4 linked regions of the Homo sapiens genome follow. The protein of the gene in region 3 purifies or fractionates together with the protein of the main gene of each other region. This does not show direct contact. Each region holds a gene or a part of one and is shown on either strand. Other genes may lie near its edges. The genes, in order: EXOSC1, EIF4E2, DIS3L and THOP1.

What was found.
Region 1: the proteins of DIS3L (region 3) and EXOSC1 purify together in Homo sapiens (affinity purification with mass spectrometry; 5 studies listed by BioGRID and IntAct, with this or other methods). This does not show direct contact.
Region 2: the proteins of DIS3L (region 3) and EIF4E2 purify together in Homo sapiens (affinity purification with mass spectrometry; 3 studies listed by BioGRID and IntAct, with this or other methods). This does not show direct contact.
Region 4: the proteins of DIS3L (region 3) and THOP1 purify together in Homo sapiens (affinity purification with mass spectrometry, with the first as the bait; one large-scale study listed by BioGRID). This does not show direct contact.

What each region holds. Positions count from the first base shown.
Region 1 is NC_000010.11:97,439,502-97,444,080, reverse strand, and holds part of EXOSC1 (exosome complex component CSL4), read left to right. Parts: intron 1-769; coding exon 770-844; intron 845-2,821; coding exon 2,822-2,910; intron 2,911-4,579. UniProt on the Homo sapiens protein: Non-catalytic component of the RNA exosome complex which has 3'->5' exoribonuclease activity and participates in a multitude of cellular RNA processing and degradation events.
Region 2 is NC_000002.12:232,563,635-232,568,213, reverse strand, and holds part of EIF4E2 (eukaryotic translation initiation factor 4E type 2), read right to left. Parts: intron 3,968-4,579; coding exon 3,863-3,967; intron 1,386-3,862; coding exon 1,233-1,385; intron 1,137-1,232; coding exon 1,000-1,136; intron 1-999. UniProt on the Homo sapiens protein: Recognizes and binds the 7-methylguanosine-containing mRNA cap during an early step in the initiation. Acts as a repressor of translation initiation.
Region 3 is NC_000015.10:66,328,068-66,331,567, reverse strand, and holds part of DIS3L (DIS3-like exonuclease 1), read right to left. Parts: intron 2,599-3,500; coding exon 2,444-2,598; intron 2,348-2,443; coding exon 2,169-2,347; intron 1,956-2,168; coding exon of another isoform or gene 1,944-1,955; exon of another isoform or gene 1-1,943. UniProt on the Homo sapiens protein: Catalytic component of the RNA exosome complex which has 3'->5' exoribonuclease activity and participates in a multitude of cellular RNA processing and degradation events.
Region 4 is NC_000019.10:2,795,060-2,799,638, reverse strand, and holds part of THOP1 (thimet oligopeptidase), read right to left. Parts: intron 3,559-4,579; coding exon 3,451-3,558; intron 1-3,450. UniProt on the Homo sapiens protein: Involved in the metabolism of neuropeptides under 20 amino acid residues long. Involved in cytoplasmic peptide degradation. Able to degrade the amyloid-beta precursor protein and generate amyloidogenic fragments.

The sequences.
Region 1 (4,579 bases), on a different chromosome or scaffold from region 3:
GGCTCACACCTGTAATCCCAGCACTTTGGGAAGCCAAGGCAGGTGGATCACCTGAGGTCAGGAGTTCGAGACCAGCCTGGCCAACATGGTGAAACCCCATCTCTACTAAAAATACAAAAAATTACCCGAGCATGGTGACAGGCTTCTGTAATCCCAGCTACTCGGGAGGCTGAGGCAGGAGAATCACTTGAACCCAGGAGGTGGAGGTTGCAGTGAACCAAGATGGCACCCTTGCACTCCATCCTAGGCAACAAGAGTGAAACTCCATTTCAAAAAAAAACAAAAAAAGTAAAATTGTCAATGATTATAGGCAATATAGTTGTATACCAAGAAATTCTGAGAGAATCACCAAAAAACTTATTAGAAGTTTAGAGATTTACTACAAAAAAAAGTAGCTGGGCATGGTGGCGGGTGCCTGTAGTCCCAGCTACTCGGGAGGCTGAGGCAGGAGAATGGCGTGAACCCGGGAAGTGGACCTTGCAGTGAGCCGAGATCGTGCCACTGCACTCCAGTCTAGGCGACAGAGCAAGACTCCGTCTCCAACAACAAAAAAAGAAGTTTAGAGATGTATGTCTTCTAGCAGCATTCTGTAGCCTCCTGGTCCTCCTATTTCCTAAAATTTCTAAGGCCTTCTGCTCTGGGCTATAAATGAATCCATACTCCAACTCTCACCTTTATACCAAGACATTCCTATATTACTCTCAAGCCACAAATGCCTTGACCCAAGGGTTAGTCAGGACATTTCAGTTTTTTGTTGTTCCCTCTGTAGCTTCCAGTGGTGTCTGTAGTGAGAGAAACAGAGTCCCAGTTACTGCCAGATGTGGGAGCTATTGTAACCTGTAAGGTAAGTTGGTCCTGACCTCCATGCTTAGAATGCCCATTCAATACTGAAATCATGACCATACCAGAACTGCAGTGTCCAGTATGATAGCCACAAGCTACATAAATTTATTTCTGGCAGGGCACAGTGGCTCACACTGGTAATTCTAGCACTTTAAGAGGCCGAGGCAGGAGGATTGCTTCAGCCCAGAGTTCAAGACCAGCCTGGGAAACATAGTGAAACCTCATCTCTACAAAAAGAATCAAAAATTGCCGGGCATGGTGGCTCATGCTTGTAATCCCAGCACTTTGGGAGGCCGAGGTGGGCAGATCACCTGTGGTCAGGAGTTCAAGACCAGCCTGGCCAATCATGGCCAACATGGTGAAACCCTGTCTCTACCAAAAATACAAAAATTAGCTTAGCGTGGTGGTGCATGCCTGTAATCCCAGCTACTCGGGAGGCTGAGGCAGGAGAAGTGCTTGAACCCAGGAGGTGGAGGTTGCAGTGAGCCTGCGTCACAGCAGTCCAGCCTGGGCAACAGAGTGAGACTCCGTCTCAAAAAAAAAGAAGAAGAAGAATAAAAAATTAGCCAGGCATGGTAGCACATGCTTGTGGTCCCAACTACTTGGGAGGCTGAAGCAGGAAGATCGCTTGGGCCCAGGGGGTTGAGGCTGCAGTGAGCCATGATCACTCCAGCTTGGGTAACAGGGCAAGACTCTGTCTCTCAAGAAAAAAATAAAATTGATTTCCTTAGTCACATTAGCCACATTTCAAGTACTCAATAGCCACTTGTGGCTAGTGGTTGCTATACTGGTCAGCACATGACTTTTCTGTCATCACAGAAAGTTTTACTGGACTGTGCAGGCTTACAGATTTCTAGGATAATAATCAAGGCAGCCAAGTTCAGGCATGCATAGTTCCTTCACTGAGCTGATTCCCTGAATACATAGTTCTACCTGTGTCTGGGAAACAGGGATGCCAGAGGATGATTAGGAGGCCTATTTTTGAACATCTGAAGCTGAGTTCTTTTTCTGCAGAGAAGCAAAAGACTTTATTTTTTGCCATTCCTGTTTTTTTTTTTTTGAGACAGGGCCTTGCTCTGTCACCCAGGCTGGAGTGCAGTGGCACGATCTCGGCTCACTGCAGCCTCTGGCCTCTTGGGTTCAAGCAATTCTACTGCCTCTGCCTCCCGAGTAGCTGGGATTATAGGCATGTGCTGCCACGCCTGGCTAATTTTTGTATTTTTAGTACAGGTGGGGTTTTACCATGTTGGCCAGGCTGGTCCTGAACTCCTGACCTCAAGTGATGCGCCCACCTCAGCCTCCCAAAGTGCTGGGATTACAGGCATGAGCCACTGTGTCCAGCCTCTTTTTTTTTTTTTTTTTTAATTGTTAGCCATCTATACTTTAAAAAGTCTATACCTCTCTGAAGGGCAAGTTGTGAAAAGATTTAAAAAAAAAAAAAAAAACCCAGCCGGATGCAGTGGCTTACACCTGTAATCCCAGCACTTTGGGAGGCTGAAGCAGGCGAATCACCTGAGATCAGGAGTTCGAGACCAGCCTGACCAACATGGAGAAACCCTGTCTCTACTAGAAATACAAAATTAGCTGGGCATGGTGGTGCATGCCTGTAATCCCAGCTATTCAGGAGGCTAAGGCAGGAGAATTATTTGAACCCAGGAGGCGGAGGTTGCGGTGAGCCAAGATCGCGCCATTGCACTCCAGCCTGGGCAACAAGAGTGAAACTCCGTCTCAAAAAAAAAAAAAAAAAAAAACCCATACCACCTTTGTTTCCCATAGTAACTCTACCAGGTGGCCAGAGTGGCTCTTATTCCTCTTTACATGTGTCACTTACGCAGAGAGAAGTAGGAGTTAATTTGTCTTAAATTCTCTACTTAGTAGGGTTGCTTGCACTGAAGCCCTAGTAATCCCCAGTTTATTGCTGCCTCCTTGAGCTGACAACTGCTTATACTCTGATGCTGATCTTTTCTCTATTCCGCAGGTCTCTAGCATCAATTCACGCTTTGCCAAAGTACACATCCTGTATGTGGGGTCCATGCCTCTTAAGAACTCTTTTCGAGGAACTATCCGGTAAGAAGTATCCTTTTCACATATACCTTAGCAACTGGAATAAGATTAGGATAGACTAGGACACCAGAATTTTGAGCAACAGTTACAATTCCTATTTTTCTTTTGCCCGTTTTTCTTTCTTCTTTGTGCTTTGATTCTCCCCTAGTAGTATCCAAAAAATACATGGATGATCTAGGACAAAAGGAAAATATTAACGAGAGGGTTTAAAAGTAAAGCAAAGGCTGGGCGCGGTGGCTCACGCCTGTTATCCTAGCACTTTGAGAAGCTGAGGCGGGTGGATCTCTTGAGATCAGGAGTTTGAGACCAGCCTAGCCAACATGGTGAAACCCCATCTCTGTAAAAAATACAAAAATTAGCCAGGCACAGTGGCTCACACCTGTAATCCTATCACTTTGGGAGGCTGAGGTGGGTGGATCACAAAGTCAGGGGTTTGAGACCAGCCTGGCCAGTGTGGTGAAACCCTGTCTCTACTAAAAATACAAAAACTAGCCGGACATGTTGGCGTGTGCCTGTAATCCCAGCTGCTCAGGAGGCTGAAGCCAAAGAATCGCTTGAACCCAGGAGGCAGAGGTTGCAGTGAGCCAAGATTGCGCCATTGCACTCCAGCCTGGGGGACAGAGCGAGACTCTGTCTTTAAAAAAAAAAAAAAAAAAAATTAGCTGGGCATGGTGGTGCGTGCCTGTACTCCCAGCTACTTGTGGAGCTGAAGCAGGAAGATCACTTGAGCCTAGGAGGCAGAGGTTGCAGTGAGCTGAGATTGCACCACTGCACTCTAGCCTGGGCAACAGAGTGAGACCCTGTCTCAAAAAACAAATAAATAAATAAAAGGTAAAGCAAAAAGAATTGAGTGAAGCTGAAGTTTAGCAGTGTCAGGATGACTCAAACCAAAGTAGAAGGCAGGCTGGGCGTGGTGGCTCATGCCTGTAATCCCAGCACTTTGGGAGGCCGAGGCGGGCGGATCACCTGAGGTCGGGAGTTCGAGACCAGCCTGACCAACATGGAGAAACACCGTCTCTACTAAAAATACAAAATTAGCCAGGCGTGGTGGCACATGCCTATAATCCCAGCTACTAGGGAGGCTGAGGCAGGAGAATCACTTGAACCTGGGAGGCGGAGCTTGCGGTGAGCCAAGATCGTGCCATTGTACTCCAGCCTGGGCAACAAGAGTGAAACTCCGTCTCAAAAAAAAAAAAAAAAAAAGTAGAAGGCATTTTAGGAAGCACTTTAAAATTTAATATAGATTGAACTCAGAGGTTATAAAACATTGAAAAGATTTGTGGGTGAGATGGTGATTTCGTGTGGCTTCCTTGAGAAAGGACAAACATTTCTTGCCAGGCAGATAATCTAACTTTTGAGGCCCTTTCCAGCCTCAGGATTTGATGTGGTTCTGTAGTGCAGCAGTCCCCAACCTTTTTGGCACCAGGGACCAGTTTCTTGGAAGACAGTTTTTCCACAGACCATGGAGGGGGTGGTTGCAGAATGATTCAAGTGCATTACATTTATGGTGCACTTTATTTCTGTTATTATTACACTGTAATATATAATGAAATAATTATACAGCTCACCATAATATAGAATCAGCGGGAGCCCTGAGTTTGTTTCCCTGCAATTCGATGGTCCCATCTGGGGGTGATGGGAGACAGTGACAGATCATCAGGCATTAGATTCT
Region 2 (4,579 bases), on a different chromosome or scaffold from region 3:
GGGCTCACTACTAGCCTTCAATAATAACAACATGATGATATTCTTACTAATGATGATGATGATGATAGCAATACTACTACTTGGCCCCGTAAAAGCATTCTCCATCTGAAGACCCTCAGTTAAAGATTAAATCAGCCTCACAATAGCCTTGTTAGATAAAGTACTGTCTCCCACTTTACAGATGGAGAAACTGAAGCAAAGTTGCAAAGACACTTGTCAAAGGCACATATTGGTATGGGGCCATATGAGAGAACTAAACCTAAGAGTCCTAACTCTTAGCTGGCTAGCTCTCCCTCCAGCTTTGAGACAATCTGACAGCCACTCCCCACACTTTTTCACAATAGCCTGAGCTTACTTCTGACACTCAATCACTGAGGAGCAAGCCTAACAGTGATTCTCACTGTGGACAGAGAGCTCTATTTCCCTGAGTCCTAGGGAGATTGCCAAGCTTATTTTCCCTGTGGCCTTCATGCTTCCCTTTGATTCTGCTCTCTCACACACACACTATCCCCCTTCTTCTAAGAGTCAGCTCTATACACAAGGAAATGGAGTCATTCCTGATAAGTAGTCAGTATCCCAGGACAAAGAAAATAGACTGAAGCTAACAAGTTAAAAAGACATGCAGAAGTGGGGTGAGGGTGGGCAGGGTGAAATTATCTTAAAAAACAGCAAGAAAAAGAAAAGCACTTGTCTTTCATTTTAAGATAGTGGTTAGCATATGAAAGACAAGACAGCCTGTAGAAATTAAGCAAGCCCAGGTAGTACAACTGGGTTTCTGCAGATGGGCTCTCTCTGCTACAAAGCACCTGGTAGTATAGGTGGCAGGGAGCCTCGCTGACAAAGAACTGCAGCAAGTAGCCAGAAGCCCTAGAGGGAAGGCCTGGTCTGTCCCTTCTCCACAAGTAAGTCTCCTGTCCGGCCATATTCCTCTGGGCCCAACTACAGATCTACTTATACTAAGCTTAGGGACACGTCCTCCCATAACCCCCCAACACGTACTTGATGCTGTCGGTGTGAGTTTTGTATTCCATAATGGTGTTGGGAGGTAGGTTAAGCACTCGCCGAAGTGTGTCCCGGATTCGGGCTGTGGTTGCTTGGTCACTGGCAGTCTTATTCCATATTGAAATAATGTCTTCCTACCAGAGGAACAGAAGGAATCATCAAAGCAAATCAGGGGCAGCGAGGAGAGCAAAGGCAACACAAGAAACCAGCCTGGCTCATGGGTGGCTTACCTGAAAGCGGACAGACACCACAGCCCCACAGATCTCCTCCCCAACCATGAACTGTTCCCCCAGCATGGCCAAAATGAGATTCTCCCAGCAACGGGAGGCCAAGCCCTTCCGCAGCCGAATAATCCACTTGCCACCATTTTTATTTGCATCATCCTGTAAAAAGACAGAAAGCACTGAAGTTAAAATATGGTTTCACAGCCTTTTTTTGTATGAAGGCAGTAAAAAGCCAAGAATCTCTTAAACACTAAGAAGTCATATCACTTTCCAATTATTCAACTCTATAGAAAAACTGATGGTAGGACTAGGGAGAGAAGAAATGGGGAAAAAAAGAAAAACAAGGCTGGGATCCTTGGCATAAGCCATTTATTAAAATGGCTAAACAGACCTTTTAAAAATAATCCCCTTTACTGGAAATACTTTAGGAATCAAAACGAAATGATGTCATATTTCAAGCACAGATCATCCGTTTACTTGCTAAAAGTACTGAATGTCTGCTGGGCGCAGTGGCTCACGCCCGTAATCCCAACACTTTGGAAGGCTGAGGTGGGCGAATCACGAGGTGAGGAGATCGAGACCATCCTGGCTGACACGGTGAAACCGCGTCTCTACTAAAAATACAAAAACAAAATTAGCCGGGCATGGTGGTGGGCGCCTGTAGTCCCAGCTACTCGGGAGGCTGAGGCGGGAGAATGGCGTGAACTCGGGAGGCAGAGCTTGCAGGGAGCCGAGATCGTGCCACTGCACTCCCGCCTGGGAAACACAGCAAGACTCCGTCTCAAAAAACAAAACAAAACAAAACAACAACGACGACAAAAAAAAGTACTGACTGTCACTACATACCAAGTACACAGACATGAAGCCCCAATCTAGTTTTTTTTTTTTTCTTTTTTGCGATGGAGTCTCCCGCTGTCACCCAGTCTGGAGTGCAGTGGTGCGATATCGGCTCACTGCCACTTCTGCCTCTTGGGTTCAAGCGATTCTCCTGTCTCTGCCTCCTGGGTAGCTGGGACTACAGGCACATGCCACCACACCCGGCTAATTATTGTATTTTTAGTAGAGACAGGGTTTCACCATATTGGCCAGGCTGGTCTCGAACCCTTGACCTCGTGATCTGTCTGCCTCGGATTCCCAAAGTGCTGGGATTACAGGAGTGAGCCACTGCGCCTGGCTGAAGCCCCAATCTCTACTCAGATCCAGTCCAGTAGAAGAGACAGCCAAGGATATTAATTACAGCAATGATACTATAATTATAAGTGCTGCTGTTAACAGATATGCACACTATGTTAAGGAAGAACAAGATAGTTGGAAACAGTCAAGAAGTGGGTCTTTTTTTTTCTTTTCTTTTTTTGAGATGGAGTCTCGCTCTGTCACCCAGGCTGGAGTGCAGTGGCACAATCTTGGCTCAGTGCAACCTCCACCTCCTGGGTTCAAGTGAGTCTCCTGTCTCAGCCTCCCGAGTAGCTGGGATTACAGGCGCGTGCCACCACACCTGGCTAATTTTTGTATTTTTAGTAGAGACGGGGTTTCACCATGTTGGCCAGGCTGGCCTCAAACTCCTGACCTCAGGTGATCTGTCCACCTCGACCTCCCAAAGTGCTGGGATTACAGGCATGGGCCACCATGCCCTGCCAAGAAGTGGGTCTTAAGGTCAACGGGAGTGAGTCAGGAAAAGCAGCTGAAGGGCACTGCGGGCACTGGGAAGAACATGTCTGTGCATAAACTGACAGGAGGGTCCACCTGCAGGGAAGGGAAGATTTAGAGATGATGGGAGATGAGGCTTGAAAGGTAAATGAGGTGCAAGATCATGTGAGCAATGAGGAGCTGTATAAGATGGGTGGCGTGGATGTGACCACATTTGTCTTCTCGAAAAATGCCATGGCACCAGAATAGAAGATGCACTACACCAGGGCGCAGCCGAATACTGGCTCTGCAAAGTTCTAGGTCTCCAGTTCCTGCCTTTAAACTTATTTTCTTACCCACTTTAATCATATGTGTACTATGTAAAAATATTACACACACGCACAAACAAGTTCTATAAGGATAAAGGTAACTGAAAACAAAAATCCTTTAATGTTCTAATACCATTTTAGTCATAAAACAGTCTTTAAAAAACACCCAGCACCAACCCACACAGACAAAAAATGGCATCAGTGCATTTCTCTAGAGGCTCGGGTTCCAAGGATATACTGGAGAGTGATGCAGTTTTGAGAGACTTTAAAACACTTTTAACCAGCTGGGCACGGTGGCTCACGCCTGTAATCCCAGCATTTTGGGAGTCCAAGGCGGGCGGATCACGAGGTCAGGAGATCGAGACCATCCTGGCTAACACGGTGAAACTCCGTCTCTACTAAAAAACACAAAAAATTAGCCGGGCGCGGTGGTGGGCGCCTGTAGTCCCAGCTACTAGGGAGGCTGAGGCAAGAGAATGGCGTGAACCTGGGAGGCGGAGCTTGCAGTGAGCCGAGATCGCGCCACTGCGCTCAGCCTGGGTGACAGAGCGACACTCCGTCTCAAATAAAATAAAATAAAATAAAATAAAATAAAATACTTTTAACCTTGGCAGGGCTAAGAGACAAAACAAAAAAACCCAAACTTGCTCAAAAAAGCAGTCAGAAGCCATTAGTCCTTACCTCCCACATGGGTTTAATTCCTTCTTTGAAGAGATGGAAGTCACTGTGGCCTGTCAGGTCCCCAGGACGTACCATGTGGCTATAAAACCTCCAGAACTGCTCCACCTGCAGAGAGAAGACCCCAGAGTAAAAAACATGTGTCTTTTACTTTTCTTTGAATGCATCCCAAGGTTGAGATTTAGTTAAGAACATAAGCATGGAAGACACTATACTACAGGCTGTCCTTTTCAGAGGACTCATTTTCATGTGTGGTGTTGTGAGGGAAGACATATTAGAGGAAAAACATACCATCTAGTTTGACAAAATAAAAAATGTAACATTCGCAATTCAAGAATAAAATCTTTGGTGAGAAATGCAAGCCTCAGCCAGGAGCTTTAGTTGGTGAAACCATGTTAATACGCACTCTCCCACTCAAGCTGCAGGGTAGTCATCACATGCAGTAAGAGGACCAGGTTTTTGCACAATGGAAACTCTTTAGCCTTGAGGTATGTAAGTGTCACACAGCCTCAGCCTGAATGCATTTTTTAGAACCAAATCACTTACCGATGAAAGATTGTTTAACTGGCAAATATAGCATTTGCTGAATGAAATACCTCTTAGACCTGTTTAGTTAGTAAGCATAAGTGATAGAATCAACCACATGTAAATACCTCTTAGACCTGTTTAGTTACTAAGCGTAAGTGATAGAATCAACCACATGTACCACACATACCACTC
Region 3 (3,500 bases):
TTTTTTTTTTTGAGATATGGAGTCTCACTCTGTCACCCAGGCTGGAGTACAGTGGTGCAATCTCGGCTCACTGCAAGCTCTACCTCCTGGGTTCACGTCATTCTCCTGCCTCAGCCTCTGGAGTAGCTGGGACTACAGGCGCCTGCCATCACGCCCGGGTAATTTTTTGTATTTTTAGTAGAAATGGGGTTTCACTGTGTTAGCCAGGATGGTCTTGATCTCCTGACCTCGTGATCCGCCTGCCTCGGCCTCCCAAAGTGCTGGGATTACAGGCATGAGCCACCGCGCCCGGCCAGCCTTTCTTTCTTTTCAAGCCTGTCCAATGAAAACCCTATTGGTGGAAGTCTAAATTAGCACTACTGATAAGGAAGACAATTTAGTAATATGTATTAAAGTTTCTTTGTCTTCTTTTTGAGATGGAGTCTCACTCTATCGCCTAGGCTGGAGTGCAATGGCGCGATCTTGGCTCCCTGCAACCTCTGCCTCCCGGGTTCAAGTGATTCTCCTGCCTCAGCCGCCCGATTAGCTGGGATTACAGGCATGCACCACCATGCCTGGCTAATTTTTGTATTTTTAGTAGTAACGGGGTTTCACCATGTTGGCCAGGCTGCTCTGGAACTCCTGAACTCAGGTGATCCACCGGCCTCGACCTCGAAAAGTGCTAGGATTACAGTCGTGAGCCACTGCACCTGACCTATCAGTTTCATTTGTGCATGCACACCTTTTGGCTCAGCAATTCCATTTCTAGGAATTTTTCCAGGAAATCATCTGAAATGTCTGTATAAGTGTATCCATAAGGATGGTTATAAATTTGATTGCTTAGAACAGTGCTGCCCAACAGAACTTTCTGCAATGATAGAAATGCTCTCTATCTGTGTTGCCTAATATGTAGCCACTAACCACAAGTGGCCACTGAGCTATACAATGTGGCCAGTGTGACTGAGACACTGGCCAAATTTCTACTGAGACAAATTTCTACTTCTAATTTTAATTAAATTTAGGTAGTCCACATGGCTAGTGCTACAACATTGCACAGCAGACAACTATACCATTGGATATAGAAAATTACATTAAACATTTAGGTAGTTTCCAATTTCCTGCGTTACCCAATAGTCTAGTTCTATGCTGTGCAATCTTGTAGCAACTAGTAATATGAAATAGAATAGAAAGCAGCTTCAAAACAATGATATAACATGGTGTGCTATCAATAACAGTTGGGTTACATGAAAAAAGCAGATTCAAACAGCAGGCACGGTGTGATTTTTTTTTTTTAGACGGAGTTTCGCTCTGTCACCCAGGCCAGAGTGCAGTGGTGCAATCTCAGCTCACTGCAAGCTCCGCCTCCCGGGTTCACACCATTCTCCTGCCTCAGCCTCCTGAGTAGCTGGGACTACAGGCGCCTGCCACCATGCTAATTTTTTGTATTTTTAGTAGAGATGGGGTTTCACTGTGTTAGCCCGGATGGTCTCGATCTCCTGACCTCGTGATCCACCTGCCTCAGCCTCCCAAAGTACTGGGAATACAGGTGCAAGCCACCGCATCTGGCCGATATTTTTATAAATAAAAATGTTAGCAGTGTCTAGAATCATTAATTGTTAGCTCTGGGTGGTAAGATAACAGGTGATGTTTCTGTCTTCATATCTTTTTTTTTTTTTGAGACACAGTCTCAATTTTGTCACCCAGGCTAGAGTGCAGTGGTGTGATCTCGGCCCACTGCAATCTCCACCTCCTGGGTTCAAGAGATTCTCCTGCCTCAGCCTCCCAAGTAACTGGGACTACAGGCGCGTGCCATCACACCCGGCTAATTTTTGTATTTTTTGTAGAGATGGGGTTTCACCATATTGGCCAGGCTGGTCTCAAATTCCTGACCTCAAGTGATCCGCCCTCAAGTGAGCCACCACGTCTGGCCTCTGTCATCATATCTTTATGCGTTGCTTGAATCTTTACATTTCCACCTTTCGGAAAAAAAAAAATCTGATAATCTACCGTCAAATCTCCCAAATCCACAAGTTACCTGAGAACATCTACAAATGTTCTGAAAGCACTGGTTAGAATAATTCTAGAATTTAATTTGCTAGAATATATGATACTTCACGGTACTACACAATAAAGCTGATATTTTCTTAGCAAGAGATGACAGGTAAGAGAATTTTGAAATTCCCTCTTACTTGGTTTCTGTTGTTGATATGTCTGCATAATTCCTCAAGATCTTTGTTGCTGAACAGATTTCCCTTAATTTCCATTTTCTTATCTTTTGAAATGGCTGCCATTAACAAGCGGTGTACTACAATATCTGAATATCTTCTTATTGGAGAAGTAAAGTGGGTATATTTATCTAATGCAAGACCTTCAAAAAGAAAGCAAAAGATCAAAATAAACAAAAACTATTTTAAAATAACTAGCGCAAAGTTACAGCCACACATAGGAATATGGTATGATTCACCGTAATGATGGAACTCCTCCTCCGCACAGGATCCGGTGGAGAAGTACAGAGCATTCGACATGGCCTGCGTGGCCATGGAGCGCAGTAGCCTGTTCACAATGGGATCGTGGGGGTCGTTCGCATTATCCAGAGAATCAGCCAGTGTTTTATTGGACCTGACAAAGAACAGAAAAACCGTTAGCTAGTCCCAGACAGTAATTTACAAGACAACACTTTGAGGGGAACCCTTCACTCATCCGTCTGAATACCTTCATCTGCCAGTAAATTTGTTTTGGACACGTTTCAGAAGCACCTCTTTTCAACTACAGAAATCTAGTTTGCTTTACGGCTTAAACAAAACAAGAGTGTCAGAATTTAAATACATTTCTTAAGTAGAAATGAATCATGTACTGATTTTAATACTAGGTTAAGTTAGTGCTTGGCTATAATAGGTGGTCAAATACTCGTTGAATTGAATTCTTTACATCCTTAACCTTAAACATTCTATATATAGGTAAAATAATGGACTTGGTGTACAAGTAAAAGAAACCTAAATTAGTTTTTCTTTTTTAAAGAGGTAGTAAGCATTCTATTTATTTATTCTCAAAATAATTTTTTTGTAGAGACAGGGTCTCACTTTGTTGCCCAGGCTAGTCTTGAACTCCTGGCCTTCAGTGATCCTCCTGCCTCGGCCTCCCAAAGTGCTGGGGTTACAGGTGTGAGCCACTGCATACAGCCTCAAAATAATAATTTCAAAGCCCCAGGAAATATAGAGGTATATTAAAAATAAAACTAATAACATATAATTCAGTCCTATATTGTGGCTGGCTAAGGGAAAAGGGGGAAAGGAGAAATAGAGCATGATGATGAACAGAGAGGCAAGGTGTTAAGTGGTCACTATGTGAGCTTGCAAGTTTAACAGACTTGGATTCAAATCTTGGCTCTGCCCTGACTGTTAAATTACAGGCAAATTACTTAATCTCTTCAGACTTAATTGACTTATCTGTAAATATGAATGATGCTGCCATCACCTCAGCATTAAGAATTAACCAAGAGGATGTCTGAAAGCCCTTGTCCC
Region 4 (4,579 bases), on a different chromosome or scaffold from region 3:
GCGGGGAGACGCAACGCCTGGGAACCCTCTCGCCGAGGGCTGAGGGATTTCCCCAAGAACCAGGCCGAAAGAAGAGGCAACCGAGGAGGAAAGAGTGAGACGGGAGGCGGAGGACAGACAGACACGGAGGCCACGAGGCTGCGCAGTGTGGATTTCAACACCAGCTGCGGCATCCAAAGCTGGGTGACCTCGGGCAACCTCAGGGATGTGCTCCGGTCTGTCAGGTGTGGCCCTGGCCAAGAGTGCTCCAGACCCTCCTATCCATTAAGGAATCACCTTCAGAGCCTGCAGCCTAAGCTTTTCAACATTCTTCTGAGACAGGGACTCGCTCTGTTGCCCAGGCTGGAATGCAGTGGCATGATCTCGACTCACTGCAGCCTCAACCTCCCAACTCAATTGATCCTCCTGCCTTAGCCTCCTGAGTAGCTAGGACTACAGGTACACGCCACTACACCCAGCTAATTTTTGTATGTTTGGTACAGACGGGGTTTCACCATGTTGCTCAGGCTGGTTTCGAACTCCTGGGCTCAAGCAATCCTCCCACCTCAGCCTCCCAAAGTGCTGGGATTACAGGCATGAGTCACCGTGTCTGGCAGCTTTTGAACATTTTACCCCTTATCTGGTAAAGCTGGTTTTAGAAACAGCTAAAACTCGACCCTGGTGATATGGGATATCAACAAAGGAACTGAATCTTGAGTGGTCCCTCTGGTGGCCTTGAAGGCTGGGAGGTGACCACTATGTGACAAGGACCTGGCTTGAGGCCACATGACACATGACAGGCTGGCAGCAGGGCTGTACTTTGACTCAGATTCTCCTGCTGGAAGCTCCGCCAGGCGGGTCTGGAGCCCAGCTCCATGGGGCCAGAGCAGAAATGCTCATCCGCAGGACAGAGGGCGGCAGCAGGGGGAAACTGTGCCCAGGACTTTGCAGGGAGCCTGTATCTTGTCAGGAAGGCCCTGGTTCAGAACCAGCTGAGGGTTTGCTGGGCCTCTCCTGGGAACAGGCCCCATGCTGGGCAATTCCCAATGTCTCCCCCTCTTGCCATCTCACATAACAAACCCAGCCATGCCAGGGAAGGCTCTGGAGACTCAATGAGCACACAGCGCTGGCCCTAAGGGCCGCGGGGACGCGCTGGAACTCTGCTCGCCAGCATCCGGACCTCGCACCTTTTCCGCGCTTCTGTCCTCCAGGCGGGGCTGCCTCTGCTCCCTCCTTGCTTGCTGGCCCTTGTGGGAGAGTTTGTGGCTTCTACCATGCACATGGCCACACATGCTGGGCATGCAACAAGCCGAAGGGGTTTTAAAAATAACTGTGGTACAGTGGCTCACACCCGTAATCCCAGCAGTTTGGGAGGCCAAGGCGGGTGAATCACTTGAGGTTAGGAGTTTGAGACCAGCCTGGCCAATGTGGTAAAACCCTGTCTCTATCAAAAATAAAAAAAAATTAGCCAGCTGTGTTGGCGGGTGCCCGTAATCCCAGCTACTCCAGAGGCTGAGGCAGGAGAATCGCTTGAACATAGGAGGCAGAGGTTGCAGCGAGCTGAGATCACACCGTTGCACTCCAGCCTGGGAGACAGAGTGTGACTCCCTGTCTAAATAAATAAATAAATGCATAAATAAAAATAAAAATAACTGGCTCTTGTCCGCTGCGGCTGAGCTGAGGACCCCCAGTCCCCGAGTACTGAGACGGACCCTGACTCCGCTTTCGTCAGTGCTGGTTTCACTGACAAACCCACCTGGCCTCTCTGAGTCTTGGTTGCCTCAGCCATAAGGTGGAGACGCCCCCTAACCAGGACAGCGGTGGCTTTATGGAACCGGAACAGGGACAGCCATGGGGCTATGGCTGCAGCCTGGGACCTGATTGAACTGTGTGCTTTCTTTCCTGTACAGATGCTCCCTGACTTAGGACAGGGGTATGTCCCAATAATCCCATCGTGAGTTGTGAATATCATAAATCACAAATGCATTTAATAGGAGCGAACATCACAGCTTAACCTGGCCTGTCTTAAGCGTGCTCAGGAACTCACAGCAGCCCACATTCTGGTGAGATCGCCGAAGGCAAAGGCTATCGGATATGAGGTGTTGGGTATCTCATGTAACTTCGGTTTTCAGTTTGCCTGCGTCATTGCAGGCTAGCTGGTAGCTGTGGCTGGCGCCCAGCGTCACAGGACAGCAAGTGCCCAAGTGGCCGGCCTCGGAAAGATCAGCATTCCAAGCACGGTTTCTACTGAACACACACCATGGTGAATCAGGGGCCTGTATTCTGATGCTTTGACATTTGGGTGCCTTGCTGGCCCTCGAGAAATGGCCCCTCCCAGAGACAGCCAACAGCTCGCCTGCAAACATCTTTCACGTGCAAATCAACTAGTCTCGAGCCCCTACACTCTGGGGCACCATCCACCGGCCCCCATTACCCTAGGGCCAGGCACCCGATGAGGGGCAGCCCCCATGCCAGGGCTGGCTGAGATGGTCCAGCCGGCCAACCCTGAGCCCACTCCCCGCTACACCCATGCCTTCACAAGGGACCCCAGCGAAGGCCCTGCCCAGAGCACACCTCCTGACCCAGCCATGCTTCCCATGTGGCGAGCTGCCAGTTCCTGGGAACTGTGACACGCATCTTTCCAGTGGCGGTCGCCACTGCTCTGTTGGTGCCGCTGAACACTGGGCTTCTGCTAACACACTACGCTTGACTTCAGCGCTGCGCTCCCAGCTCTGCACCAACTAACTCATGTCACCCCTGAGACGCCCACATCAGGCACACCGGGCAGTGGGTGGAGGGGCTCCCCTCGTTACCGAGCCTCTGCGCCCCATGTCTGTGTGGACCTGCCTTGCCAGAGTTCAGGTCCTCAGGCAGAAGAAAGATGGACATCAGGCCGGGGGTCAGCCCTGAAGGGGGGACGCTCCCGAGGAGGCAGGGGCAGGGGGCCACAGAAGCTCCACTGGCCACGCCCAGCACTCCCCGCACCCAGTACTCCCTGAGCCCAGCACTCCCCGCAACTGAGCACTCCCCAGGACTGAGCACTCCCCGTGCCCAGTACTCCCCATGCCGAGTACTCCCCAGACTGAGCACTCCCCACACCCAGTACTCCCTGGGACCGAGCACTCCCCCCACCCAGCACTCCCCAAGCCCAAGCACTCCCTGAGCTCAGTACTCCCCATGCCCAGTGCTCCCTGGGACCGAGCACTCCTCACACCCAGCACTCCCGGCACCCAGCACTCCCTGTGCCCAAGCACTCCCTGAGTCCAGCACTCCCCGGGACGCAGCACTCCCTGAACCCAGCACTCCTGATGCCCCAAGCACTCCCTGAGCCGAGCACTCCCCGAGCCCAGCACTCCCCCTGCCCTGCGCTTCTTGCTCCCACCACTCCCTGGGACTGAGCACTCCCTGTGCCCAGCACTCCCCGGGATCGACCATTGCCCACGCCCAGCACTCCCTACACCCAGCACTCACTTCCTGAGTCTCTCTGGGGAGGTGAAGCCCATTTCTCCGGCCCAGCTTGATTAGCCGCTCCAGGTACCGCGCAGCCTCGGGCCTCAGTGAGTCCTTCTGAACTTTCTCCTGGAATAAAAACATCAAAGCATGTAGGACGTGGGCCAGTGCAGCCGCTCCAAAGAGCAGTTTGGCAGTTTCTTAAAAACCTGATCATCCGGCCCCCGTGTGACTTGGCAACTGCACTCCTGGGCATTTATCTCAGAGAAATGACGACCTGTCTCTACATAAAACCTGTGCAAACGTTCGCTTTGTTTGGAAGAGCCCCACACTGACATCAGTCCAGAGCTCCTTCACCAGTGCGATGGCTGAATGGGAATTAGATTGCTGGTGGTCTCCAGGTCGGTATCGGGGTGTAGATGACACCATAGTTTTGCAAAACGTCATCACTGGGGACCTGGGCAAAGTTGGCAAAGGCATTCGATTCTTTCCTGCACCTGCATGGGAACCTCTCATTGTCTCAACAGAAACTCTGGAAAGTGGAGGTGGGAGGATTGCGTGGGCCCAGGAGTTCGAGACAAGCGTGGGCAACGTTGTGAGACCCTGTCTGTATTTAAATAAAAAGAAATAACAATCCACGGCTATCATGGGTCACCCTGATCTGGATTTACCAAAGCACTAGGGCTGCATGATCCTGAGACTGTGGGACACATCAGCACATTCCCAGGGGTCCTCGCCTAAGAGGATGAACAGCAGCAGGAGGGTCTCTGGGTCTCTCCTGATCATGTGACATCAACAGCAAAGGCCCCACTGCATACTGCGAGGAGCATCCGGGGGAGCAGGAGCCCACGCAGCCATGCCGCCAGGCCCTGCCAGCTCACGCCATGTGGGGATGGGGTGTTTGGGTCACACTAGGATGGCCAGGAAAGGAAATGAAAGTGCACATGTGTGGCCGGGCGTGGTGGCTCAGGCCTGTGATCCCAGCACTTTGGGAGGCCAAGGCGGGCGGATCACCTGAGGTCAGGAGTTTGAGAACAGCCTGACCAACATGGCAAAACCCTGTGCCTACTAAAAATACAAAAAATGGGCCGGGCACAGTGGCTCACACCTGTCATCCCAGCACTGTGGGAGGCCGAGGTGGGCGGATCAC